Regions from separate parts of the Homo sapiens genome. Here region 1 is linked to region 2. A link means that fine-mapping ties the variant in region 2 to the expression of a gene that starts in the linked region. Tissue or cell type: whole blood. Region 2 holds a variant in brackets; the other region holds the start of a gene. All regions are shown on one strand. Distances are between the middles of the regions. Region 1 holds the start of SPOPL (speckle type BTB/POZ protein like). Region 2 overlaps LINC02631 (long intergenic non-protein coding RNA 2631).

What was found.
Region 1: SPOPL starts here. The variant in region 2 is fine-mapped to the expression of SPOPL in whole blood (TOPMed, PIP above 0.99).

Annotation. Positions count from the first base shown.
Region 1 is chr2:138,499,954-138,502,864 of GRCh38, reverse strand. SPOPL (speckle type BTB/POZ protein like) reads right to left here and starts at 1,095. Exons shown (of 11, transcript NM_001001664.3): 1 at 746-1,095. It overlaps SPOPL-DT (SPOPL divergent transcript), which reads left to right and starts at 1,170. Exons shown (of 2, transcript NR_187149.1): 1 at 1,170-1,546; 2 at 1,985-2,911. RefSeq lists silencers at 410-459, 660-1,199.
Region 2 is chr2:138,602,196-138,605,106 of GRCh38, reverse strand. LINC02631 (long intergenic non-protein coding RNA 2631) reads right to left here. Exons shown (of 3, transcript NR_174959.1): 1 at 2,666-2,911; 2 at 548-1,043. Among named protein-coding and RNA genes, the nearest start is that of LINC02631, 2.1 kb to the right of the region's middle. The variant G/A (reference allele first, on the strand shown) is at 1,330.

The sequences.
Region 1 (2,911 bases), 100 kb after region 2:
TTTGAGAGAGAAAATGCTACCTTCCCTTTTCTTTTATGTTGAATCAATATACAAATACATTGACTCAAAAAGAATTAGGAAAAAGGAGAGCAGCAGGAATACAAGTGGGCTCTTTGAAGACTTGGACCCCGAACCGCGCGGTTAGCTTGATGTACTCTGGTATAAGTGAGCAAAAATGTATTAGAAAGCAGGTTAAAGAGAGGTTAAAGGCATGACCACCGGACTGGAGGTAGTGAGCGGTCTGCGAAGCTGAGAACTCTGCCTAAAATGGGCTAACAGGGACGAGAGTTTCAAGTGTCTGTATTTGGGATGAGGAGGTATGAAAGTGGACGCTGCGCGGTGGCAGAGCATGCAGTTTCTGCCTTTGGGCAGCACTCAGGTAAAAAGGGGCAGGTGTGGAGGTATACAGGTATAGAGGAGGAGAGAAGCCAGAGGAAAAGAAGGGGCGAGGCCCGGGGGTAAAACTAAAGGGGATCCTGGAAGGTGGAGGCTGGGAAATCAAGGAGGGATTGGGGGCAACCCCGGGGAAAGTGGTGCCGCCGCGCGAGGGAAGGGCGGTCCGGGGGCGTGGGAGGTAGTCCCCAGAGCAGGCCGGAGCTCGCCGCCCGAGCAGGGGTCCGGGACCCAGAGAGCAGAGGGCGCAGTGAGGCGCGAGCAGGAGGCCGCCGGTCTACGGAGAGCCGGGGGAGGGGAGCAAGCGCCTGGGGCTGCCGCGGGGACTGGGGGGAGGGGAAGGGGCGCCTACCTGGACGTGCTGGGCGGCAGCGGTCAGTCCTGGTGGAGACTCCTCTCCCGCTGAGGCGGTGGCCGTGTCCGCCCTGGGAGCCCGAGGCTGCGGTGGTGGCAGCAGGGGTGATGGCGGCAAGTCCCTGTGGCGGCCGCCTCCGCCGAACCGCATCCCTCCTCCCCGACCCGCCCTCCTTCCCTATCTCCCGCTCCTAAACTTCTTCCCCGGGATAAACAAACCCGCCGCCAGGGGCGGCCACCTCCGCCACTCCCGCCCCCGCGCAGCCCCCACCCCCCCGCCGCGGGCCCGTCTGGGCTCCGGCTTCCGAGTTACGACTCCAGCCCCGGCTCCAGCCCGCGAGGGCGCGTGCGCGCGGCGGCGGCGGCGGCGGCTCCTGGGCCCTTGCTCCCTCCTACAGCGCCGGGCACTTCCGGGCGGGCCCGGATTTGCCGCCGCGCTTGGGAAGCCGCCACCGCCGCCGCTGCTGCATGGCACTAGGCTCCCGGCGGGGCAGGTTCCGCAGCCGGCACCGCTCTGGCTAGGCGCACGGAGGCGCCTTGCTTAGTCTGACCCTTATTTGGCCAGGCGTAAAACTTGTCCTGCCTAAAAGCCTACTGAGACCTCCTAACTGGTCTAATCCGCGGGAGACGCCAAAGGCGGCGGCCGTTTGTGCGCACAGGATTTTTCTTGGAGCTGTAGCAGTCTAGGAAGCCAGGGTGGAACTTTTGCTAAGCTCCCGTTGTAAGCCCAGAGCTGTAATAACTGCTGAGACACAACCAGCAGTATACAGGCTCCAGTTGGAAATCGAGAACTTTCCAGGTAGATGAAGTGCCCCATGGAGCAGTTTTCAGGTGGAGGGGATGAGGCTCAGCTGGAAGTCTCAGGCCAGAAGGAGAGGCTGCCGAGGGGCGGCCAGGGATGCCTAGGAAGTGAGCGCAGAAGACCAGGCGGCCTCCTGGGACCGCACGGTGGGAAATAAAGCTGCACCTGCACAAATGTGTGAAGAGAGGATGGGATTGCCTTGTCTCTTCGGACATTTAGTTTAAAAAGGGGGTGACAACTGAACTTTTTATTCCCCACGGCCATGGGACAAAGATACTTAATCGAGCTACCAGGAGTAAACTTCTTTAAAGAAGTTTGGGGGACCAACAATCCCGGCTTTGCCAGAACAGACATGAACGTCATTCAAGGATCCCAACTCTTTTTGCTTTAACTGTGCATACGTCAGCAATTTTTGTTTTGTTTTGTTTTTGACAGGGCTGTCACCCAGGCTGGAGTGCAGTGGTGCCATCACAGCTCACTGCAGCCTCGACCTCCTAGGCTAAAGTGATCCTCCCAACTCAGCCTCCCGTAGCTGGGACTACAGGAATGTGCCACGCCCAGGTAATCTTAATTTTTTGTGGAGACGAGGTCTTGCTATGTGGCCCAAGCAGATCTCGAACTCCTGAGCTCAAGGGATCCTCCCACCTTGGTCTCCCAAAGTGCTGGGATTTGCAGGCGTGAACCACCACACCTGGCCATAAACCAACTTCTCATTGCTTACCTGGCTTTCCAAGAAAAGAGAGAGGGCAGAGGGAAAATATTTATTATTTTGCTATGTACTGAGTATTCTAAGCATGGACTTGTATCGTCTCTGTTCTCTCAACAACCTCTCTAAAACTTCAACGTAGAAATTTCCATCTTAAAATTAAGCGACAAGAACTAGAAATGGCAAGTAATTCATCCAGAGGTTACTGGGATTTGAATACTGGACAGGCAGATCCCCCTCATTTCAAATTAATACTACATTAGCTGTCTTTTTTATTTCTTTTTTCTTTTTGTTTGTTTGAGACAGGATCTCGCTTTGTACGCCAGGCTGGAGTGCAGTGGCGCGATCCTGGGTCACCTCCCAGATTCAAGCAATTCTGTGCCTCAGCCACCAAGTATCTGGGACTACAGGCGTGAGCCCGGCTAATTTTTGTATTTTTAGTAGAAACAGAGTCTCACCATATTGCCCAGGCTGGGCTCAAACTCCTGGCCTCAAGTGATCCTCCCACTTCTGCCTCCCAAAATGCTGGGATTAGCACCTGACCTTACGTTAGCAATCCTGTTGACTTATTTAAGACAAAACGTGCTTTAAGACAAAATCTGTGCCAAAGGTTTTCAGATAAAGATAAAATTAGCAATGTAACCATAAAATTCAAA
Region 2 (2,911 bases):
AGCTCCAGCTCTTACACTGGTAGCTATGTCACCCTAGATTGTATTCTCCTTATCTTTTTTGTTTGGAGATGGGGATGTCACCCTGTAACTCAGCTGGAGGGCAGTGTTGTGATCATAGCTCACTGCAGCCTCCAACTCCCGGGCTCAAGTGATCCTCCCGCCTCAGTCTCCCCAGTAGCTAGGACTACAGGCACACTTTTTAAATTTTTTGTAAAGATGGGGGTCTTTCTATGTTGCCTAGGCTGGTCTTGAACTCCTGGCCTCTAACAATCCTCTCACCTCAGGCTCTGGAGTTGCTGGAATTTACAGATGTAAGCCACCATGCCTGCCTCCTCCTCCTTGCCTTTAAAATGGTGATAATATTATGCTAATTACCTTATCTGTTGACCTATTTAATCTGCATAAGAAAAATTTTAAATATGATTAAATATTGAAAGCTGTAGCAGTTAGGAATATATTTGGTAGTAGAAACAAACTAATCAACTCACAGTAACTTTAATAGTTGGGGTCATTTTTCTCTTAGAACAAGAACAAAATAAGTGATTACCTGGGTGGGTTCAGTGGATCAACAGCCTTTGTCTTCATCAGGAGAGCAAAAATTGCCCCAGAACATACTCCTAACAGATTTGCACTTGTTTTCATGGCTGGAAGTGAGTCATAGGGCCACACTTAGCTCAAGGGAGACTGGAAAATTGAGGATTTGGGGGCCAGTGGGTGGTAAAAAGAAGGGTGTTGGAAATATTTTTGGGATAATCATTTAGAATTATCTGCCTCAGGAAGTTTTGAATTAAAATCATATTAATTAATGTATCTACAACCTCCCTTTGGAGGGAATGCAGTGCTTCTAGAGGCCTCAAACTTCTGTTTTCTCAGAGAAAGCAGAAACCCAAGAGGAGAGCCAAGTGTCTGCTGTGCCTCTTCCTTGGGGCAACATCTTCCCTAGCTCTAGATTGCTGGTCCAAGGGAATCAGGCCACTCAGTTGGCTTCGTCAATGGAAATTCTCAACACAGAATGCTCCTCTTCCACTGTGAGATGTTTCACCCTGCAAATAAAAGTGCAGAATCTCAAGTCATGGGGCACACGTGGAATTCTGACTCTTCTCTTTTCTAACTCTTGATCTCGGACAAGTTTATGGTTAAAACACTCACATTGCTAATTTGAAAATGGGAATAACAATGTTACTTATCTCTTTTCTATGGCAGTGAGGATTAAATGGAAAGCACTAAATAGAGTGGCTACCATATGTAACTACTCAGTAAATGGTAACTGCTATTATTAACATTAGTAGTTGCTATGGACTGAATCTCTATGGCTCCCCCAAAATTGAT[G/A]TGTTGAAACCTAATCCCCAATGTGATGGTATTTAGAGGTAGGGCTTTTGGAAGTGATTAGGTCATGAAGGTGAGGCCCTCATAAATGGGATAAGCACAGTTTGTAAAAAGAGACTCTCGAGAGGCCCCTTGCCCTTCAACCCTGTGAGAACACAGTGAGAATATGGCTGTCTGTGAACTGGAAAGCAGGCCCTCACCATACACAGAATCTGCAGGCACCTCAATCTTGGACCTCCCAGCCTCCAGAACCGTGGAAAATAAATGTTTGTTGTTAAAGCAACCCCATCCAGGATATTTTTGTTATAACAGTCCAAACAGACTAACGCAGTAATCATAAACAGTAACACTTTTTAAATGTACAGATTTTCCAACTCTGTCAACTTTACTCCAAAAGGTTAACAACAAAAATTATGTGAATAATGATTTCTTTCTGTTTGCATCTAAAATTAAACCACATGAGCTTATTGGAATTCATCCTAGAATCTCTGTAATTGTTAGTATTTGAATGACAAGCTCTCCCATACATTTACTAAAGTTTGTAAAGAAAGCTATGCCATTCTGGAGTATGATGATCTGTCCCTGTGACGTATCTAGAAAGTTCATTACTTGTCTGTAGTCGTCTCTTGCCAAATTCAATTTGCAAAGACAATAGCTTCATAGCCATTTCTTTTAATCTTGTTTGTAATATTGCTCATTAAATAGAAGATATATTATGCCAGATCTTGTTCATTTCAAAGCAAATTATAGAAGGTGACTAAATTGTGCACCAAGAGAAAGAGTCCAATGTTTTACCAGCAAGGCCACAAAATCGACATCTGCTTTTTGACAAGCTGAGAGATCCAAAAGAATCTTGACGTATCTTAATGCTGTCTGTCATATACCACAATGTTCATCAATTATTTCTTTGTGAAAGAATGACTAATTATTATGCCTACATGGGGTTCATTTGCATATGCAAGCTCAAGTGTTTTATAGAGAAAAGAATGTTGATTTGTGGTGAGGGCAAACTCCTTCCCTCCAAATTAAAATACTTCTTTTTACACACAGTTACATTAGGCTTGCTATTGAAACCCAGGGAGAGAGAAAATATAATTCAGGAACTGAGTCCAAATCTATTTTCCCATTTCCAAGAAAAAGGAAAACAGTATATTTTTCATGTATTTTAGACTAAATTTTTGAAAAATGTGCCATGCAGCTGCCATTGTTCATAAGGGAAAATGATCTGGATACAATTGGCCTAATCAACTCTTAACCTGAGAACATAAGTGGATGATTTCACCTAGTGTTACCCACACAAGCAGCTGCTGACATCAGGGTCCTTATGAAAATGCTGCACCTGAGACTGATGCCAGGTAGATGGCACTGGGGATTTCAGACTCCAGAACTGAAAACAAGCTGAGCATCTGGTGGAGCCATCCGCTGATCCAAAAGGCTGCTCTCTACAGATGAATGGGTGTTAAGACAGCTGTCCTTCCTAGACCATGAGCAGCTGCTGGCCAGGGTTGCTGCCTGCCAAAAGGGTGGAGTTGGGAGAAACCAGGAGTCAACCACAGCTACCACAGTCTAATGAGTTAGTTTGATA